2 separate regions of the Homo sapiens genome follow, and region 2 is linked to region 1. The links come from fine-mapping of genetic effects on gene expression. Tissue or cell type: whole blood. Region 1 holds a variant in brackets; the other region holds the start of a gene. All regions are shown on one strand. Distances are between the middles of the regions.

Region 1 (8,080 bases):
GCTGCCTCGGAGCAGTCCGGCCGAACTGACCATCTCCGCGCTCAGCCTGGCGCTGCTCGTGCCGGTCAAGGAATTGAACGTGAGATTCCGAGACCGGCTACCCACGCCGATCCCGGGGGAAGTCGTCTTGGTGAGGATGGCCGTGCGCGCCGGCCCCCTGCCCGCGCAGACCCTGCGGTCCTGTGGGAACTGGCCGCTGCCGCCCCCTGGTGGAGTGCAGAGAGGCCACGGAACAGAGGGCCGGCTCACACTTTCCTTGGCCTCCTGCAGAAGGACGCTTTGACCTTCCACAGCCCCCCTCGACACTGTCCCACGTCTCTCACGGAGCACCCCCTAGACCTCTTGGAGTTTCCTCTGCCATCCTACAGCGCTCCCTTGAGGTCTTGCTGGTCACAGCACCTTCTCTGACATCTGTCCTCACCAGGGTCCTTCCCTGTAATTCACAGTGCATCTCCCTCTCCACCCTCCACCGACATTTCTCTCTCTCCCCAACTAAATAAACGTTCCGCGTCTCCACAGATGCCAGTATATCACTAGATATCGTCCAGCTTCCCTCTTTGGAAGGCTCAGTGGCATCTCTTCATATCCACCATCCTTCACAGAAGCGTCCTCTTACTTCCACGGCTCCAGGCTCTGTGGCCTCAGGCATATGTCATCCCTCTTTCCCAGCTCTACACTACAAATCAGTTGTCAGGCCCTCATCCCAAACACATCCCCGCTCCCCCAGGTGCTGGGCTCCTGCAGCCAGCTAGGCCTGCATTATGGTCCTCTCTCATGGTCAGCCCCTTCTAGCTTCTGCCAGGGACCCCATCTCTTCCCATGCCTTCATTTTGCTCTCTTTTTCAGGTGCTTCTGGCCTCCGTGCTCTGCTTCACCTCTTCTGTGGACACAAGATACCAAGTCCAGATAGTGGGGCTGTTGCCTGGAGGGTAAGAGAATGAAAAGATGCCAGCTTTCTCTTCTCCCACCTCTCCCACCCAACACTCCCTCTTATCTCCACCCCCCATTTTCTCTGCCTTCCTTATCTCACTGAAGCACCTAACCCCTCCTCACCATGGATCCCTCCCTCTCCAGATTTCCCCAACCCCTCCTCCCCAACCTGGCTGAGCTGCCCAGGATTCTGGCTGACTCGCTGCCCATTGCACTGGTTAGTTTTGCGGTGTCTGCCTCCCTGGCCTCCATCCATGCAGACAAGTATAGCTACACTATTGACTCCAACCAGGTGGGACTCTGACTGTGGACCCCAACCCTCTCATTTGACTTCCCACCATGCCTTTGTCTCTCCCACTTCATCTCACTGTATCCCTCCAGGAGTTCCTGGCACATGGTGCCTCCAACCTCATCTCCTCCCTCTTCTCTTGCTTTCCCAACTCGGCTACGCTGGCCACCACCAATCTACTGGTGGATGCTGGTGGGAAAACACAGGTAAGAGGGCATCCTTGGATGAGGAGAAAGGATGGGCCATCCAGGCAAGGTGGCGGTGGTGGAGAAACAGGTGGAAGATGGCTAGAATCCCAGGTGGCACCTATATAGAGAAGACTGGGGATCTGTGAGAAAGGGTGACTGAGGGGATGGAATTATAGATAGGAGAGATGGAAGATAACAATGTTCCAGTAAGACCTTTGTAGGCTCTAAGCGCTGAAAAAGTTTATGGTGCCCCAGGTGTGGTTCAAAATAAAAACACAAAACTATAAAATAAACTTAAGAGATAAAATTCTTATTTTTTTCACACAATGACATTGTCTTTTAAAAGGAATATCACATATCAAAGTCTCCCCCTAATATTTTTGGTTTCCCTTACTTTGCTGGTGCCCTAAACACATATACCCTGCTTATAGGGTAACCCAACAGTGGCTTTTAAGGTGGAGGTGGGCTACAAAACTGGGGAACTTGAACAATGGACATCTACAAGGAGACTGGTGAATAATGGGCATTTAATTAATTGGGGGGAGCGGGAGGGTTAGATGTGAATGGCAGAATATTAAGAAGGGGGTTGTGTGGAAGGAGATTTGGGAGAAGGGAGACTTCCGAGGAAGATTAGGCAGAGTGGGCAGGAAGACCAGCTCTCATGTGGGGGTGGGAGGCTCTCTTCCTTTTTTGCTCCTGTTCCTCCTTTTCTCTAGCTGGCAGGCCTCTTCTCCTGCACAGTGGTCCTGTCGGTGCTGCTGTGGCTGGGGCCCTTCTTTTACTATCTGCCCAAGGTAATGAGCAGAGGAGGCATGAGCATGGCTGGGAGGGGTAGCTGTATTCCAGGACATCGAGGTAGTCAGCCCACCTCCTCTGCCTCAAGGCTGTCCTGGCTTGCATCAACATCTCCAGCATGCGCCAGGTGTTCTGCCAGATGCAGGAACTTCCACAACTATGGCACATCAGCCGAGTGGACTTTGTGAGAAATGCCATTACCCCCAGATTGCCCCCTCTCATCTTGTTAGCATCCCCAGCCTCTGCCCTGAACCAAACCTAATTGTCCTGGTCTTAAGTTCTGCAACCCACCCACTCCCCCAGCAAACATAACTCCTAGTATGCTTTACTCACAGGCAAGGGAAAGGATGGGGTTTGAACCCCTTTGGCCTGAATATTTGTAACTTCCCAACTGGTGCGGGTCATTACATTTGGTGTGTGTCCCATTGAATCAACCCTGTTGTTTCCTTCTGTCATGCTTTCCACTTCTTCCTGGATCATCTCTCCCCATCACTTGCCTTGGTAGTCACTGCCCTGGATCTCTTTACCCAGCAGTGATGGCCTGGCTTTTCTTTTGGGCAATCCACCCCTATCCCTATCCTGCAGGCTGTGTGGATGGTCACCTGGGTGGCAGTAGTGACCCTGAGTGTGGATTTGGGCCTGGCTGTGGGTGTGGTCTTCTCCATGATGACTGTGGTCTGCCGCACCCGGAGGTGGGCATAGAGATGAGTGGAGTTGAGGTCGGGGCAGGGGAAGAGAATGAGGTGCTTGGGGTGACTCTCCAGCCAGGCCAGGCTAAGCTGGAAATCTGGCCCCACCTTCTTCCCTAGGGTGTAGTGCCTGGCACTTGGACAGGCTGAGGGGACAGAGCTCTACAGACCACTCAGAGGAAGCCCCAGGGTGGGTGGGCTGCAGCCAAAGAAGGAAGGGAAGATTAGCCCCAGACATTTCTCTGATCCTTTGACCTCTTAGCTCCTCCAGGTCCCGGGGCTCTGCATCCTGAGCTATCCAACACCACTGTACTTTGGGACCCGTGGGCAGTTTCGCTGCAACCTGGAGTGGCACCTGGGGCTCGGAGAAGGAGAAAAGGTGAAGGAGCTTGGTTTAGGAGGGATGTGGATCCTCAGGGAGTGGGAGGCAGGTGGGTGTTCTGAGGGGGATCCTTGTGCTCAAGGGGTGCATGTTCATGCTGTGTTTCGGGAGTGGTGACTGCCCTTCTTTACTTATAGGAGACTTCAAAGCCAGATGGCCCAATGGTTGCAGGTGAGATGGGGTGACAAGAAGGAAGATTTGGGCATGTTGCATGGTGACACCTGGGTACTCCTGTCTTCTCCCATTCTAGTTGCTGAGCCTGTCAGGGTGGTGGTCCTAGACTTCAGTGGTGTCACCTTTGCAGATGCTGCTGGGGCCAGAGAAGTGGTGCAGGTGAGGGAGAGGGTAGGTTGAGGAGAAACCCCTTAGCATCTCACTCATACCCTCTGATCTGGGACTTAACCCCTTTGCCCCATCCCTGCAGCTGGCCAGC[C/T]GATGTCGAGATGCTAGGATCCGCCTCCTCCTGGCTCAGTGTAATGGTGAGATGTGTGGAGAAGAGCGGGGCCCAGTGCCTGGGCAATGACTGGACACCTGCGGTAGGGAAAAGGACCCGGTGTGGACTTAGGGTCTCAGAGTCTGACACCCTCCCCACATAGCCTTGGTGCAGGGGACACTGACCCGGGTAGGACTCCTGGACAGGGTGACTCCAGATCAGCTGTTTGTGAGTGTGCAGGATGCAGCTGCTTATGCCCTGGGGAGCCTGTTAAGGGGCAGTAGCACCAGGAGCGGGAGCCAGGAGGCACTGGGCTGCGGCAAGTGAGGCAGGGGTAAGTGGCTGGAGACCCAGGGAGAGGGGTTTGGGAAAGGGTCTGAGGAAGATCAAGAAGAAAAGGGTGGGGACGGAATGAATAGTAGATTGAAGACCAAATCAGGGAGCCCGGGCTGAGCTATGGGTGAGGAACTGAAGAACTCAGATCCCTAAGTAGGTGGGGTACCCCTGAGAGGACTGCCACATTTCATTAAGGAAGAGGGGTGCCTAATCTATTCCTGACATGTCTCCTCTCTTCTCCAGGAGCTCACTGACCCAAAGATTTGCACCGTGTGGGTCTGACCTCATCATGTGGAGTGCAGAGGGCCCTGATGACATGTGTGTGATGAGGACCATGACCCTTGAACCCCCTTACCTAACGTAACTAATAAAATGAAGCTGAGAGCTTTGGAATCCATGAAGTGAGTCTAGGTGTTTGCACAGGGACTCTGGTGCCCCTTCTTTTGTGCCCACAGCATTGCAGAGACACAACTAAGAATGGCTTTCACCAACCACCAGCCCTCACCCCAGCCCCAGAGCCACAAGTTCTCTCTGTGGGGGTGGGGCTGGAGCAGGTACACAGAGTACTGGATCTGAAGATGCAGATGAGGGGCACAGTCTTGGGATTATGTGTTGGGGAACTTCCCCACCCCCTCGGTCCCAAGATGAGAGGACAGTGTTTCCACCTTAGGTTCTTAGAGTCCCTCTGGGCTCTTTGGCACTTGGAAAGTGATCCCCCCATTTCCTGCCCCATGAGAATGGGCAGGGGGAGGACTTGGCACTGGCTGTGGGAGAGGTTATGGCTCCACCAGGCCTCTGGGCACTGGAAAAAGGAGGGGTGTCACCAGGACAACCCCTACTGGGCATCAGGTTCTGAAAAGGAAGAGTGAGGAACTAGAGGCTCAGGGACAGCCAGTAGAGTGCTCACAGGGTGGTGGGGTTTGTTGGAAATTCCTGGCAGGGACAAGGAGGCAGGCCCAGCCTGACAGTCAGAAATCCCCAGCGGGCCATCACTGGGAGGTCATGCACTGCAGCCGGTGTTTGAAGAAGAGCAGCCGGTGTTTGGCCATCTGGCTCTCGTCCAGTGATCCTGGGTAACGGTACCGGGCGTAAGTCTCTGCTCCGGCATCCCTTGATGTCCAAGGCAGCTTCAGTTTGGATGCATGATCCACCACGACGTCGGAGCAGGAGCCAACCCGAAGGGAACCAAGCCCATCCAAGAAGAATTCTGGGGGTGGAGGGGAGTACACAGTGAGGGATCCTGAGGGTGCAGAAGGCCGACTGGTAAGGGAGAACTCTCAAATTTAGGGTGTGGAAAGTGTGTGTGCAAAGGCTTGTTTCTAAGGACCCTGAGCATGTAAATCAACTCCCTGGGTCTCAGTCTTACTCTTGTGTAAATGGAGTCAATATACTTGTGCTTTGAAAATCGAAAAACCTACCCCTACTCCCAGAGGTTAAATAAACGCCAGATGGGTTGCACCGACTGTGGTCTGAACTAGGGGAAGCCCTGGGAGTAGAGCAGGGGTGGCGGGAACAGTGATGGGGAAGCTTATGGGGGCCCAGCGGCTGTGCTGGGAATGGAGATTCAACATGGCACATGTATACACATGTAACAAACCTGCACGTTGTGCACATGTACCCTAGAACTTAAAGTATAACAAAAAATATATATATTTATAAAAAAAAAAAAAGAGTATGCGGGGCTGGGAGAGGGTGGGAGCTGTCTCTCGCCCAGGTGCAGGTCTTGGTAAATCACTGCAGAACTGTTCTGGGGTTCCCGCTGGCGGCTGGGCGCGGGTGCAGCCTAGGAGGAGAGGCGCGTGACCGTGCGCCAGCTCCCCGTGGGGCTCCTGCCAGGGTCGACCGGGAGGGGGTGCCACTCACCCAGATGAGCCACGCGGCTGAGGCGGGGGTCGAAACCGACCTCGCGCACCTTGTCAGTCCGCGCCAGGAAGAAGTTAACCACGCCGTCGGTGACCACGCAGCCTGGGAAGCCGACGAGCTCGTGGTGGAAGCCGCGCCTTTGCCGGAGGCAGTTCCCGAGGCCTGGGGCGCCGGGCTCCACGCTCAGCAGCTGCCGATAAGTGGTGGCAAAGCCGGAGATCTCGCGCACCGCGCCCCCCACCTGCAGGGAGAGGGAGGTTGCCTCCAGGCGGGCCTGGGATAGGGGACCCGAAGGGGTCAAGGTCTGCGCTCCGGTGCCTTCGGGGGTACCCCTGCCCCATCCTCTTCCGCTTCACCCCTGCAGGACCCAGACAGTTCCCAGGCCCCACTTCGTGGTTCTCTCTTTGTCCTAGGGCTGGCCGTTCCTGGCCGCAGCGCCCCCGCTGTGGCCTTAGCCTGTTCAAGGCCCTTCTCCACCCCCACATCCTGCAGCCCCTGCCCTACCAGGTCCAGCGGCGTCCGCTCCAGCACGTCCACAAGCCTCTCCAGCCGCGTCCGCGCCGTGAAGACGAAGTCGTCGTCCACCCACAGCACGTACTTGGTGGTTACTTGAGACACGGCCAGGTTCCGGCCTGCGAACCAGCCCTGGCAGAAAGGTGTGTGTGGTTGGGGAGGCTGCAGAAATAGGACATGGCCCTCTGCCACCTTTCTTTCTCTCCCCCGACCCTTCTCAGCTTGTATTCTTCTCCAGACTTTTGAGTGCTTTCGAAAGGCCAGGAGCTAGGTAAAAGAAATGCAGATCCCCACAGAGGTTCCAAGTCAGTGGTCTTAGAATGCGTTTAATTTCCGTGTGCATTTATTTATTCATTCATCAGCTATTTTATTGAATGCCATTAGGCACTAAGCACCATTCTAAGAATTCAGAGAGAATTTCCTGCTCCCACGAAGCTTACATTCCAGGAATCCTCATGCTTAACAGGCACCCCATGATTCTGAGGCAGGTGGTCCTCGAATCACTACCCTGGAGGCTGCAGATTGAGGGCACACCCCCTGCGGGAGTCCTCTGGCCTGCCGTTCAGCCTGCTAGCTGCACACCTTGCCGAAGGGCATGAGATAGTGTTCCACGTAGGGGCCACTAACGCGCTCTGGCTTGTCGCTGTCGTCAGCGATGACCACGGTAACCGTTGGGTAGAAGCGGCGGATACTGGTGATGAGAGCCCGTAGCCGATCATAACGGAGGAAGGTCTTGGTGGCAATCGTGACTAGAGCGCTGATGTTGTACTGGGCTGAGATTGGGGGCACAGGGTTGGGTGCAGACAAGGAGGGTTGGGAGAGGGGAACAGGTAGATATCCCCTCCCAGGACTGCCCTCTCCCAACTTGCTCCCCACCAAGGCTGGTTCTAATATGTCCCTGCCCCTACCAGCCTCACCTCCCTGGGGTAGAGACCCAGGTGGGTACAGCCGAGGGTTGGGCGGGTGTCTTATGCGGATAGTGAAAGCAGCCTCATGTCCCTCGGTGGAGAACCGGACTGGGAAGAAAGGACATGGCATTTGACCCTGAAGGGTGGGATAACATTCTGTTTTCAGCCAATCAATATTTAAGTGCCTACTCTGTGTCCCACCTTTCTAGGCCTTGGTGGACAAGAACAGAAGGTTCTTACCTTTATGGAACTTACATTCTAATGGGTAGGAGAAAAAACAACAAAGAAAATTTTAAGTAAAAGCTAATCTTTATTGAGCACTTACTATGTGCCAGACCCGTTAAAAAATTACCTTAAATATATGCACTCATTTTATCCCCATGATAGCCCTATTAAGTAGATTCCTACAACAGAAAAAAAAGCTGAGACACAGAAAAGTAACTTGCCACATTTACACAACTATTAAGCAACAAAACTGATAGCAACCTAGTCAGTCTGGTGCCAGGCTAAGTAAATTAAAAAATTCAGATACTGGTAAGTATTGAGTGGAAAATAAGACAAACAAGTAATGTGATAGTGAAGAGGAGGCATTTGAACTGAGATCTAAATGACAAGAAGAAGCCAGTCTGCAAAAATCTGGGGAAGAGCATTCCAGGCTGAGAAAATAGAAAGTGCAAAGGCCCTAAGGTGGAAGCAAACTTAGTGCAACAAACCAGCTTTGGGGAGAAGCAAAGAGGGCTTTTAGGCCTCTTTT
Region 2 (8,094 bases), 100 kb before region 1:
TCTCCCAAAGTGCTGGGATTACAGGTGTGAGCCACCATGCCCGGCCCTTAACTCATTCTTTAAAAATGAGTTTTTAAAACCTTTGCTTAGAAGAATCTAAACACTTCTAATTCCATTGTTTCCAATCTAGATCAATTCACTACCATCTCTAAATTACTGCAGAAACTTTCTGACTGCAGAAGGTCTTCCCATTTCTTCTCTTGCCACCCCTCCGCAACTCTATTCACCATACAGCAGCCTGAGTGAGCCTTTTAAAACAGGTCATTCCTCTGCTCAAACCCTCCAATGACTTCCTATTTCATGTCATGGAAGTCACTGAAGGGTTTTGAGTGGAGGAATTACCTAAGGTAATTCCTGACCACCTGATGTAACACTCTGACCTCCATCCTGAACATTCTCCATTCCTTTCTCTGCTTTAGCTTTCTCCGTGGCACTTATATTTTGTTTACTGTAGGCCTCCCACTGAGATGATTTTTTCCTCTTGCTCAAGGATGTACCCTGAGCCCCAAACTGTGTGGCACACAGTAGGTCCTCATTAAGTATTTGTTAAGAATGAATGGATAAACTCCCCCCAGTCTCTCTTATAGGGAAGGGGCAGAAGCAGAGTGGCAGCTGCTGATCCCTAGGGGCTAGAGATGCAATATTGCCCGAAGTATTTCTCTGCAGGGCTGTCCTCCCTGGGGAACCCTCCCTTGCCTTCCAGTGTGTGGGACTTGGCTTTCATCAGCAGTAGAGCCTCAGGTCAGAAGGCTGCAGAGCCAAACGGGGCTGGCCTGATGCAATGGTTACACAGAGATTAGCTGGGAGACAGGACCGGGTTAAAGAGGCAGGGACTAATCCCGAGGGAAGGACAATACCCTGGGGAGACCCCAAATGGCCTCCTACACTTAAGAGATCCAGGCTGCTCTCTTGTGCAGGAGGCCCAGAGACCTCTACGGCAAAAGGAAAACACACCACTCCCTGTCCATCGGCACCCCTCCCAAAGGCTTGTGTCTCCTCAAGGTTCCCCTATCCGCTGCAGGGTCCAGTAGCCCCAGCTACCAAGGTGGCCATGCTGACACCAGAGGCACTGAGACTGAGACAGAATTGGGGGTGGGGTAGGGAGAAGGCCCGCTGGTGGCGAAGCGGCGGAAACGGCCTGAGCGATGGTCACCCAGTCTTAGAGCGGGGGTGTGTCCTGCTGACCTGCCTCCCCGCGGACAGGCCTAACGATGAGGCCTGAAGTTGGCTACGGGAAAGAATGAATTTCCCAAGGGCAACCGAGGTCCCTTTGCCCAGCAGCACAGAGCAGGGCCCGTGTTCCGGCTCCGGGCAGGGGTGGAGAGACGCCGTCGTCCGAAGCAATAGGGGTTTGTAAGCACCACCCCAGAATAAGGGACTCTCCCCATTCCTCTCTCGGACGGTCCCTAACTTCACTGTGGAGGAGTGAGGCCGATCCTAAAGAGCGGACGCCCCAACTTTGAGGAGACGGGAGGGTAAAAGGTAGATGGGAATCAGTACTCGCCTCTCTCCTCAGGTTCCAGCTCTGATTTTGGCTCTGTCGCTGCCACCCGCTCATCTTTAACATGATACGCTCAGTGCCTTAGACTTAAGTCTCTGACCTCGGGAGCGCCTGGCTGTAATCTTTTACCATGGCCTTGCCCTCCTCTCAGGGGCGGGACCCCAAAACCTACCAATCAGAAAGTGGCACGCCGGCATTGGCCCCGCCCCGTCCCTCGCATCCGCCACTCAGGAGCCCCGCGGCACCGCCCCCGTCGCTCCCTCTCGCTAGGGGGTCGACGTAGTGTCGGACCCGGAAGTGGCTTTGGGTCACGAGGCTTCACGGAGGAGGTGGGTGAGTCATGCGCGCGCGCGGAGGGGAGTGTAGCGGGGGGGGAGGGGAGGAAAGGGGGGCGGGGATGATGCAATGTTTGGCAACCGGTGTCTGCACGCGCACGCGCAGGGGACACCGAGGGTGGTGGGAGGTGCGGAGGGTGGGGGAGAGGAGAGAGGGCGGGGCGCCAGCTCCCGGCGCCCAACGGCCCCAACGGCTATCAGCCTTGGTCGCCCCTAGTCGGTCGTGAGCCTCTTTGCCGCTTGTCTCCCCCAGAAGCTGCTGTTCCGCCCACCTAGCTTTACCCGCCGTTTTACCCCCACTATAAGGGACTCCCATATTTCTTGGCCCCTCCCAGCTAATGGGCACATAGGCCTTTTGAACTTTTCTTTTTAAAGTTGGTATCCATCCACTGGGATTGTCGACATCTCGAGTCTTCTTAAAGAGGTCTCCTGGCCGGGCTCAGTGGCTTACGCCTGTAATCCCAGCACTTTGGGAGGCTGAGGAGAGCGGATCACTTGAGGTCAGGAGTTCGAGATCAGCCTGACCAACATGGTGAAACCCCGTCTCTACTAAAAATACAAAAATTAGCCGGGTGTGGTGATGCGCGCCTGTAATCCCAGCTACTCTGGAGGCAGAGGCAGAAGAATCGCTTGAACCCTGGAGGCGGATGTTGCAGTGACCGAGATCGCGCCACTGCACTCCAGCCTGGGTGACAGAGCGAGACTACGTTTCACCAAAAACAAAAAACAAAACAAACAAACAAAAAAACGGGGGTGGTCTCCTGTTCTAGCCCCGTAAATCTCCCAAAAGGGGCCGAGGTACTGGAATCCCTTGGTAGTCATTTTCCGCTTCTCTCAGAACAGCGCCCTTGACTTTTACCTTGTAGTTGGTAAGCCCTCAGCCTGCCAGAAGTCATGTATTTTGCCCAGTGGACCCGATTCTGTTTGGCCACCTATTTTCCCCCACGGTACTCCTATGGCTTTCTCCAAGACCCTCTCTTGCTGTACCAGACAGCAAGTCCTGTGACTCCCTGTGTGAGGAGCGCGGCACAGGCCTGCCTCCTAGGTGTTCGGGTCGAGATTTACAGCGGAGTCTCATCCCGGGACGTGTGAGTGCACTTCAGCGCAGGACTGCCCTGGACTGGGGAGACCGGAGCCGCGATTTTAGACTCAACTCCCCATCACTTGCCAAGGGATCTTACCGTCCTTGTTTGTAAATTAAAGATAAAAGTTGTGAAGGTAAAATGAGAACCATGAACTTGGAGGCAACTTGACCAAAAGTAAAACGCACCACCCAGAATGCAAAGTATTTTTCTTGTGCCTTGAAAACAGAGGCCATGTGGTGGCCTGTTACATATCCTGTCATACCCTCATGGGGGCAGCCAGAGTTTAAGTAGAAACTGTCACAAGGCCGGTTGTGACTGGAGTGGTGTGGCAATGACAGGTCTTTGGTTAGGCTGCTCCGCTGCTCCACACCTCCATTTCCTCTCTGAAAATGGGGGTAGTGTGGAGGGTGGACCAGATGGTCTCCCCTGGCCTAAAGACAGACCAGGTTGTCAGTGACAGGCAGAGGTCATGTGACTTGACAGGCTGAGGTCGTGTTGTGACATGTTGACCTGGGGAGGCGGGTCAAGTCCCAGCACACTACCCGGGAAGCCTTTGGGGCGGGGCAGGGCAAGTCGCGACTTTCATCTTTCGGGGCCTGGCCCCTCCCGGACCTGGCATTCCTGGTTCCCGCAACAGACTGTGGCTTTGGAAGGGGCCCCTCCCTGAGGAGGGCTGGGATTGGCCACCAGTGGCCTGGGAAGAGGCGCAGATCCTTCCGCGGAGGGCGGGGGGGCCGCGTGGGGTGTTTGTTCTCTTGGGGATTAATGGGGGGTTGTGGGGGAGGGGTAGGCGCGCTCCCGCATGCGCACTGCAGCCCCTCCAGTTGGCTCGTCGCTGTCCGCTGGGCGGGGGCCCGGCCCCGCCCCTCTCCCGTCCGGGCAGCGGCGGAGGCGGCGGCTCCTGCGGCGGCGGCTGCGGCAGCGACGGCGGCGGCGGCAGCGGCAGCAGCCTGCGCAGTGCCTTCTGGGAACGGAATCCCCAGGGCTGCCCCTGGCCCCCATGGCGCATGCGCGGGAGGCCGCTCGGTGATCCGCGGCGGCGGCAGCGGCGCTTCCTGCTAGGACCGGCCGGGGCCGTACCGGAGGCTCGGGCTCCACCGACCCTCCTCCCACCCCCTCCCACTCACCCTCTGGGCCGCGACTGCGCAGGGCGGGGCCGGCCGAACCATGGGCCGCGGTGAGTGCGGGGCCCGGCCCCCCCCACCCTGCCCCTCCCCCTCCCGTCCCTACCCTCTGCCCCCTCCGCGTCCTCTCGGCCCCTTTCCCCGGCCCCATCCCCACTCCCCCGCCCTCACCTGCCCCCGCCGCTTCTCCCTCTCACTGCCAGACTTCTGCCTTCCTCACCGCCCTCCCCTCAGTGCTTCGCCCACCCTCCGCCCGCCCTCTCCCCAAGTTCCTTCCTACTTCGTGCGCCTTCCCCTCCTCCTCAAGCTGAGGGAAGCAGTCTGGGTGACAGGGCGCCTTGTTGTGAGAGGGAAAGTTTGGAAGCCGCCAGTGTGGGGTGGGAGCAATGGTGAGGCTGGGGAGGATACCTGCAGGTTGGAGGGGCTTCCCCTTCTATCGGAGGACAGGCTCTCTTGGAGATAATCGGAAGCCAGTGGAATAGGAGGTTCTGAATCCCTTTGCCGTAGGCTTGAGGGAAAATCAGGAGCTTCCCAGGATCCTGGGAGAAGACTGAGCTGTGATCCTCACCTCTTAAGACCCGAATGAACTATATCAGCGATTGTCTGATGGAGCAGGCATGGGGGGAGTTCTGCTGGTACCACCCCAGCGGGCAGTTGGGCAATTGCCTGGTGACCTGTGGGGCAATCTGTACTTTTTATATCATCTTCCTGGGTAGAGAACAACAGGAGCCAGACACTCTGGGAAACTTCCTAGTGGCCTAGCATTATGGGAATGTGCCCATACTCCTGGTTGAAGTCTTCTACTCCGAATGGAGGGAGGCCTTGCCCTTCATATGCCTAAGAATTGGGCTAGACTTTCTTGGTCCCAGGGAGCTGAGGTTCTGACCCTCTGGTCCCTAGGGACTGGGCTTGGAAAGGATGGTTGTAGACTAAGCCAGCAGATCCCCGAGATCTTTATAGGTGCTTGCCTCACATTGTTAAGGATCTTTCTTTTGAGAGGGTGCTGGGCTGTGCTGCTCTTTAGAGTTGGGCAGACTCCTGACAGTCCCATCTCTCTACTTGCGTTGCAGGTGTGGGCTAAGCTGGTGGCCCCGGCTTTAGACTGGACCCCACAATGTTTGCAGAGATGTTCAGGTAGCTGTGGTGATACGGCAGAGGACTCCTCAGTCTCCCTCCCAGCTGAGGGGTTCCCCTTGCTCCTCTGGGGCTTCCCCTGAGTTTTCTTGGGTCTCCCCACAACCTTTGCCTTCCTGGAGTCCTCTCTCAGGTACTTCGCTCAGTTTAATCCTCCTAGTGCCTACATGGATGTCTGTGTTATCAGGCACGCGGGAGCTGATTACACACAATGAATGGGGGCAATGAGAGCAGTGGAGCAGACAGAGCTGGGGGCCCTGTGGCCACATCTGTCCCCATCGGCTGGCAGCGCTGTGTGCGAGAGGGTGCTGTGCTCTACATCAGGTACGGATCTTCACAGGTCCCCAAGCTCTGCCACTCCAGTTGCCCAGGTTTTCTTTCTTCCGTTTCTTCTCTCAGCTCAGCTCTCTGGTACCCGATTGCTCTCCTCTCTTCCCCTTCCTTCCTCAGCCTTTTTGCTTTCTGTAGCTCTGGGCCTTTGAATCCATTCTCCCTTTTTCTGTGTCTTCCCACATTCCTTATCCTCTGTTCTTCTAGGAGGATCTGTAACTTAAGCACTGTGCTTTAGGAGTATTGCCTGATTCGCTGCCAGCTAACCCCATGTCCTCTGACCCTGTCCTCTCGCAGTCCAAGTGGCACAGAGCTGTCTTCCTTGGAGCAAACCCGGAGCTACCTCCTCAGCGATGGGACCTGCAAGTGCGGTCTGGAGTGTCCACTTAATGTCCCCAAGGTCAGAGTGGTGAGGGGCGCCTGAGAGTACAGAGATAAGCTAAAAGTCTTAATGCAAATCACTGACTGAGGTAGCCCTTCTCACAGGTTCCAGCCCCTCAGGGTCCCTGTCCTTGCTTTCCACCTTACAGGTTTTCAACTTTGACCCTTTGGCCCCGGTGACCCCGGGTGGGGCTGGGGTGGGGCCAGCATCAGAGGAGGACATGACCAAGCTGTGCAACCACCGGCGGAAAGCTGTTGCTATGGCAACTCTGTACCGCAGCATGGAGACCACCTGCTCACACTCTTCTCCTGGTGAGTCTTCTGCCACTTTACAGAAGACCGAGGAAAACCTAAGGGCTTGGAAGGCTGGTGGTGGGAGGAGTTCCTTGAGAGGGAGCAAAGAGAAAGGGGAGTGGGTGGGGAGCTGCATGTTGAAAGGAGGGCACAGGGAGGTTGGGAACTTGTGGGAGATGGGACTAGAGAAGACAAAAGAGTTTTTGGAAGGGGAGCCACAGGCTGACCCTTCATTTTTCATTTATTGCAGGAGAGGGAGCGAGCCCCCAAATGTTCCACACTGTGTCCCCAGGGCCCCCCTCTGCCCGCCCTCCCTGTCGAGTTCCTCCTACAACTCCACTTAATGGGGGTCCTGGCTCCCTTCCCCCAGAACCACCCTCAGTTTCCCAGGCCTTTCCCACTCTAGCAGGCCCTGGGGGGCTTTTCCCCCCAAGGCTTGCTGACCCAGTCCCTTCTGGGGGCAGTAGCAGCCCCCGTTTCCTCCCAAGGGGCAATGCCCCCTCTCCAGCCCCACCTCCTCCACCTGCTATCAGCCTCAATGCTCCCTCATACAACTGGGGAGCTGCCCTCAGATCCAGCCTGGTGCCCTCTGACCTGGGCTCTCCTCCGGCCCCTCATGCCTCCTCCTCACCACCTTCAGACCCTCCTCTCTTCCACTGTAGTGATGCCTTAACACCCCCTCCCCTGCCCCCGAGCAATAATCTCCCCGCCCACCCTGGTCCTGCCTCTCAGCCACCAGTGTCTTCAGCCACTATGCACCTGCCCCTGGTCCTGGGGCCCCTGGGAGGGGCCCCCACGGTGGAGGGGCCTGGGGCACCCCCCTTCCTTGCTAGCAGCCTACTCTCTGCAGCGGCCAAGGCACAGCATCCCCCACTACCCCCTCCCAGCACTTTACAGGGCCGAAGGCCCCGTGCCCAGGCACCCTCAGCTTCCCACTCCTCATCACTTCGTCCCTCTCAGCGTCGTCCCCGCAGACCCCCTACTGTATTTCGATTGCTAGAAGGGAGAGGCCCTCAAACCCCTAGACGGAGCCGTCCTCGGGCCCCTGCTCCTGTCCCCCAACCCTTTTCTCTCCCGGAGCCATCCCAACCAATTCTCCCTTCTGTGCTGTCCCTGCTGGGACTCCCCACCCCTGGCCCTTCCCACTCTGATGGAAGCTTTAACCTTTTGGGGTCAGATGCACACCTTCCTCCTCCCCCAACCCTCTCCTCAGGGAGCCCTCCCCAGCCCAGGCACCCCATCCAGCCCTCCCTGCCTGGGACCACCAGTGGCAGCCTCAGCAGTGTGCCAGGTATGTGAGTATTGTGGAGCCCTTCCTCATCCTGGCTGGAAAGAGGCAGCCAAGGCATTTAGGGGAATGTTCAGAGAGCTCTTTGAGGGTTTTCTGGGTTGGGGGCAGGGAGGTTGGCTTCTTTGGATGATGGGAGAAAGGGCCTCCCTTGAGCTGAATTTCTCTCCTCTTTTACAGGTGCCCCTGCCCCACCAGCTGCCTCCAAAGCCCCAGTAGTCCCCAGCCCTGTGCTTCAAAGCCCATCCGAAGGACTGGGGATGGGGGCAGGCCCGGCCTGCCCTCTGCCTCCCCTGGCTGGTGGAGAGGCTTTCCCTTTCCCCAGCCCTGAGCAGGGCCTGGCACTGAGTGGAGCTGGCTTCCCTGGGATGCTTGGGGCCTTGCCTCTCCCTCTGAGTCTGGGGCAGCCTCCACCTTCTCCATTGCTCAACCACAGTTTATTTGGTGTGCTGACTGGGGGAGGAGGACAACCTCCCCCTGAGCCCCTGCTACCCCCACCAGGAGGACCTGGTCCTCCCCTAGCCCCAGGAGAGCCTGAAGGGCCTTCGCTTTTGGTGGCTTCCTTGCTTCCTCCACCACCCTCAGACCTTCTTCCACCTCCTTCAGCACCTCCCAGCAACCT

Evidence for each region. PIP is the estimated chance that this variant, and not a neighbour inherited with it, causes the effect.
Region 2: it holds the start of MBD6, and the variant in region 1 is fine-mapped to the expression of MBD6 in whole blood (TOPMed, PIP above 0.99).

The regions. Positions count from the first base shown.
Region 1 is chr12:57,621,713-57,629,792 of GRCh38, forward strand. It overlaps B4GALNT1 (beta-1,4-N-acetyl-galactosaminyltransferase 1), which reads right to left. Exons shown (of 11, transcript NM_001478.5): 7 at 7,336-7,434; 8 at 7,001-7,191; 9 at 6,410-6,550; 10 at 5,906-6,146; 11 at 1,697-5,249. The coding sequence ends at 5,032. It overlaps LOC101927583 (a long non-coding RNA gene), which reads right to left and starts at 191. Exons shown (of 4, transcript NR_120450.1): 1 at 1-191. It also overlaps the pseudogene SLC26A10P. The variant C/T (reference allele first, on the strand shown) is at 3,707.
Region 2 is chr12:57,518,914-57,527,007 of GRCh38, forward strand. It overlaps MBD6 (methyl-CpG binding domain protein 6), which reads left to right and starts at 3,911. Exons shown (of 13, transcript NM_052897.4): 1 at 3,911-4,098; 2 at 5,116-5,179; 3 at 5,367-5,503; 4 at 5,807-5,909; 5 at 6,040-6,202; 6 at 6,435-7,475; 7 at 7,653-8,094. The coding sequence starts at 5,391. It overlaps DDIT3 (DNA damage inducible transcript 3), which reads right to left and starts at 1,601. Exons shown (of 4, transcript NM_004083.6): 1 at 1,505-1,601. It overlaps LOC128125814, which reads right to left and starts at 1,567. Exons shown (of 2, transcript NM_001414991.1): 1 at 1,505-1,567. The coding sequence starts at 1,567. It overlaps MIR616 (microRNA 616), which reads right to left and starts at 346; the gene lies at 250-346. RefSeq lists enhancers at 437-1,398, 1,369-1,498, 1,373-2,572, 1,399-2,358, 2,359-3,319 and 4 more and silencers at 1,569-2,028, 3,743-4,142.